Linked DNA regions of Homo sapiens: region 2 is linked to region 1. A link means that fine-mapping ties the variant in region 1 to the expression of a gene that starts in the linked region. Tissue or cell type: whole blood. Region 1 holds a variant in brackets; the other region holds the start of a gene. All regions are shown on one strand. Distances are from middle to middle.

What was found. PIP is the estimated chance that this variant, and not a neighbour inherited with it, causes the effect.
Region 2: RBM23 starts here. The variant in region 1 is fine-mapped to the expression of RBM23 in whole blood (INTERVAL, PIP 0.98).

The regions. Positions count from the first base shown.
Region 1 is chr14:23,009,728-23,012,483 of GRCh38, forward strand. C14orf93 (chromosome 14 open reading frame 93) reads right to left here and starts at 416. Exons shown (of 7, transcript NM_021944.4): 1 at 374-416. RefSeq lists a silencer at 405-754. The variant C/CT (reference allele first, on the strand shown) is at 1,662.
Region 2 is chr14:22,917,847-22,920,458 of GRCh38, forward strand. It overlaps RBM23 (RNA binding motif protein 23), which reads right to left and starts at 1,303. Exons shown (of 14, transcript NM_001077351.2): 1 at 1,153-1,303. It overlaps PRMT5-AS1 (PRMT5 antisense RNA 1), which reads left to right and starts at 1,610. Exons shown (of 2, transcript NR_120600.1): 1 at 1,610-2,612. RefSeq lists enhancers at 1-119, 608-777, 848-957, 1,048-1,117 and a silencer at 1,378-1,677.

The DNA of each region.
Region 1 (2,756 bases):
CCTGTGGCAGAAATTTACATTATCCCTTCAGCCCGCTTAAAAAATTCTGTACTTCCCAAGCGGCTAAATTTTTAAAGTCCCTCAACCACAAAAATCTACCAGTTCTTAAAATGTGATTTAAAAAAAAGAAAAAAAAACTATAAATTTGGCCGGAAACGGTTGTACACGGCCATCCTGCTTCTCAACTTCTTGGTATATTTAAAACCTTGACCAGGAAAAAGAAAGAGGAAGAGAGACAGAAAAAGAAATGGGGGAAAGAGCAAATTCCCCTTAGCAACAGTTTCCTCACCCCAACACTGCTACAGATCTCTATTTTTAAAAAATTTGAAAACACACACAAGATTAAGGAGGAAAAAAAATGGAAAAAGGATACCCGAAGGTCGTATGGCTCTTTGTATTCGTGTGTGTGCAAAAAGGAGGACTCGCGGAGCCCGAGCCGGCAAGCCCCGCCCCTCCCCGGACGCCCTCCCGGATTGGCCGTCCGCGGCCGCGGGGCGCCCCGCCCGCAAGCACACGCGCCGCGCCCGAGGCGCCAACCCCGGAGTTGGGGGCGGGGGGGGCCCTGAGGGCCGCCGGACCCCCGACCCCCAACCTCGCCTGGACCTTGGCAGACCCCTTTCCCACCTCTCTCCCTTTCACTTTCTCACCGTCCTGTCACCCTTTCCCATCTTTTTTTCTCAGTGAAACAAGGCCCAGTCACCAGCATAACAATCCAGTGAGCGACCTCCGGACACTTTGTTAAATTGAGTGAACTAGTCAGTAACATTCTAGACTGCAATTAAACATCAGGGACTTGGTGCGTGGGCCCTACTCCGGTTTCCAGGTGAAATGTCTCTGGGTCACGTGTGTTGCTTAACACCCCCACGTTTAAATGAACATTCACGTATGGAACATCTTTCTGAAGTCTTACACTTCAGCCCGAGCTCCCAGTTTATCTACCTGGCTCAGACCACATTCTCAAAACTAAAGTGGCTCCTCTTTATTTCCAGGAAGACAGCTGGTATACCTGGATTTTAAGCCACCCATAATCTGGTCCCACCCACCTATTTGTTATTTATTTATTTATTTAGACAGAGTCTCGCTCTGTCACCCAGGCTGGAGTGCAGTGGTATGATCTTCGCTCACTGTAAACTCCGCCCCTCCGCCCCCACCCCCACCCCCACCCCCACCCCGCCCAAGCGATTCTCCTGCCTCAGCCTCCCAAGAAGCTGGGACTACAGGCGTGCGCCACTGCACCCAGCTAATTTTTTTTGTTTTTGGTAGAGACAGGGTTTCGCCATGTTGGCCAGGCTGGTCCTGAACTCCTGACTTGAGGTGATGTGCCCACCCTGCCTTTTTTTTTTTTTTTTCAGTGATGTGATCTCGGCTCACTGCAACCCCCACCTCCGAGGCTCAAGCGATTCTCCTGCCTCAGCCTCCCGAGTAGCTGGGATTACGGATATATGCCACCACGCCCGGCTATTTTTTTTTTTTAAGTAGTGACGGGGTTTCACCATGTTGGCCAGGCTGGTTTTGAGCTCTTGACCTCAAGTTATCCTCCCGCCTTGGCCTCCCAAAGTGCTGGGATTACAGGCGTGAGCCACCGCGCCTGGGCACATATTTGTTCTTAGTTCCCTCTACGCTCGTCTTATCAATCTTGTATTATTCCTTTACTCAAGTGG[C/CT]TTTTTTTTTTTTTTTTGGCCTGAATTATGCGTCTCCCCTTCCCTGACTGGTCAATTTTTATCCATTCTCTTTCAGCACAGACTGCTTACTTCCTTCTCTCCGCTCCCATCAACATGAATTTCATGTGTACTCCAGTTAGCGGCACGTAACTCTACCTTGATTCACATATTTTAGTAATTTCACTCCAGTAAACTGTTTGAGGTCAGTGATCATATCTTAAAATTGTTTTTCCATCCAGGAACTGTTTGATTCTTACTGCAGTAGCTGGCATAATTGTAGATATTTAGTAAACACTGACCAAAAAAATCATTTATTTATTTATATTTATTTTTGAGCTGGAGTCTCGCTCTGTCGCCCAGGCTGGAGTGCAGTGGCCCGATCTCGGCTCACTGCAAGCTCCACCTCCCAGGTTCACGCCATTCTCCTGCCCCAGCCTCCCGAGTAGCTGGGACTACAGGCGCCCGCCACCAAGTCTGGCTAATTTTTTGTATTTTTAGTAGAGACGGGGTTTCACCGTGTTAGTCAGGATGGTCTGGATCTCTTGACCTCGTGATCCACCAGCCTCAGCCTCCCAAAGTGCTGGGATTACAGGCGTGAGCCACCATGCCGGGCCAAAAATCATTTATGATCAAATAAGTGAATTTCTTTTCTAGCTAAAACACAGATTCTGAAACTCACATCTCACAAGAATTTCCCTTCTATAGTAAGTAGCAATTTGTGAACACTTATTGTGCAGGAAGTAACTGTTCTGAACACTTTATGTGCATCAATTTAGGTATTATTATTATTATTTTTTTTTTTTATTTTTTATTTTTCGAGACAGAGTCTTTCTCTGTCGTCCAGGCAGGCGGATCACGAGGTCAGGAGTTCGAGACCAGACTGACCAACATGGTGAAACCCCGTCTCTGCTAAAAATACAAAAAGTTAGCTGGGCATCGTAATGCGCACCTGTAGTCCCAGCTACTTGGGAGGCTGAGGTAGGAGAATTGCTTGAACCCAGGAGGCAGAGGTTGCAGTGAGCCAAGATTGCGCCACTGCACTCCAGGCTGGAGGACAGAGCGAGACTCCATCTCAAAAAATAATAATAATAAAAT
Region 2 (2,612 bases), 92 kb before region 1:
TAGACCTCGTCATAGCACAAGCCAACAGATAGACCCCACTGCTAAAGGAGCAGAGAGAACCACTGTCAGACCAATTCGGGAAGAATTCACGAAAAGCTGGAGCCCCAGGGGTGATGGTAGCGCCATCCCCAGGGTCTGATCACTTAGCTGGGCACAAACACCTACAAACTGAAGGCAGCTTAACAAAAGAGGAACAATGAGAACGATAAAAGCTACTTGAAGGACCACCCTCCCCATGTTGTGTAGCTTTAAAAAATGGTCCTATAGGCCGGGCGCGGTGGCTCACGCCTGTAATCCCAGCACTTTGGGAGGCCGAGGCGGGTGGATCACCTGAGGTCAGGAGTTCGAGGTCAGCCTGGCTAACATGGCAAAACCCCATCTCTATTAAAAATACAAAAATTAGCCGGGCGTTGTGGCAGGCGCCTGTAATCCCAGCTACTCGGGAGGCTGAGGCAGGGGAATCGCTAGAACCCGGGAGACAGGATGCAGTGAGCCGAGATCGCGCCACTCCACTCCAGCCTGGGTGACAAAGCGACACTCCGCCTTAAAAAAATAAAAAAAAAGAGGTCCTATAGGCAACCAACTGGCACAATCTCTGCGGGAGCCAGTGTCCCAGGGCTCAATCTTCATATGTGGCATCATAATACGCCTACTGGAATGAGTGCTTGAAAAAGTTAAATGGGAAAAGCCCATAAAGGTCAACATAGTGAACATGAATCTTCGACAGACTAGAGATTGAGGAAGAAAGCTCAATTCCCTTCTCTCTCTCTGAATGGTGGTGCGAGTGGCTGAAACTGATGATGCGTGTCCTCTCAGGCCGCGGAGGGTCGATGCTCCCTCTCCAGTGTGGGCGACCCTAAGTGTCACGGCTGCAGAGACCCGGAAAGAAAAATCACAGGATTCTAGAAACCGCATCTTTATCGGTGCAAGATACAGCCACGAGGGTGCCCAACTCTAAAATCGTGGCAGTGGGCTACATTTAAGTAGCTAACACTTCCAGGTCAAAACAAACAAAGGTTTTTTTAATGTTAAAAGTTCGCCTGAATCTCTTCGTGACGCCATTTTCTGCCCGTGACGTCAGGGGGGAGGCGCCGTGCAGCAACGTCACGCATTGGTGACGTCTGGTGGGGACCGGGTTTTGGGGTTTCTCACCAGTTCCGGGTCCCCGCAGGGGGGTCCCGGTTCTCTCCGTTCCTTTGAGTATGTTGTGGGGAGTGGAGCTCGGATAGTTCCTAGAGTCTAGGCAAGAAAAGCAGCACTGCAGGTACAGAGCCTCCTCTTCCCGCAAAATGGCGGCAGCTCTGCCGTCTTCCAGAACCTTCCCCAATCTGCGCATGCGCCAAGACTCCCCGGCTTTGGAAATAACCTCACTGGTTTCGCGGCAACCGTCCAAAGTACAGGTTCTCATTGGCTAAAGTCCTAAGTATGGGTGGAGCAAACTCAAATGCGTCTTAGCAACCACCGAGTTCCCATTGATTGGCTAACCTCAGAGACTCCAGAAAATGGAAGCGTCCTTTGGTAGCCGCCCATCACTCTCTCATTGGTTAAATGACTTGCGGAGGGCGGGGAAAACGGGACTGAAAACGGGAGTGAAGAAGCCACCAACCCCACTCCTGGTGCTCGCGTAGACTAGACCAGTGCGATGGGCGGAGCCAACGAGGAGGCACAATTTACATCCTTGGCCGTCCCTACTCGGATTTGCTGAAGGAGTCACGTCGGTCGTTAAGGTTAAGCTTTGTAGAGAACAGCGGCGTTTGTTTAACGTCCGGGGATGCTGAACTCGAAATCCCCGTTCTGAGCCGGCTACCTAAACAACCTTCCCGACCACCTCTCCTGACCTCGGTGCTTGGGACCAGGGAAAAGCAGATCTTGCCACAGACTTGTCTTGGCCCACACTCTGCCCTATCGTCATGGCCTGCTCCCACAGGTCATAACTTCCGTTCAAATCAGTACCCCCACATTTCCCACTGCAAGGGTAAATTTGAAAGTTTCTCAGGTGACTCCTTGGATGTAGCAGTACTGAGTCCTCTAACCGGAAAGAAGGAACTGATGTCCACCCTCACTTTCCAGGGGCCTCCAGGAGCCCCTAGACACTTCTGTGGTCTACTGTAGCTACCAAAAATGTAGCTGGTTATAACATGGGGAGAGCCAGAGTCGGAGGACCTGACTTCCAATTCTGACTTGGATACTAATATCACATCATTGTACCCATTTCAAACTCCCCCTCTGTAAAATGGAAAATTGGACTAGATGATCTCTTAGGACTTCAAACTGTAACCCTGTGGTTTTATTCAAAAAAAACAGGTAGCTTCTTGCTGGAGATTCCTGGATGGATTCCAGTCTTCCCAAGAGGTAACAAAGGAGAGGTAACCAGTTGCCCGTGCAGTAGCTCAAGAATACAGAAGAGAAACTGGCTTCACTCACTATTCCATCTTTTTCCAAGGTGGCAAACTCTATGCCTCCTCCCCAGAGAAAAGCCTAACTGTAGGTTCTAATGGACAAGAGCTCACTGTAGCTGGTCAGAAAGGCCTATATCCAGGACTACAATAGTCATTGCTCAGCTTCCTAAGTAGGGAATACAACTAGGCCCCTTTGGGTCTTGGATAGGCTAA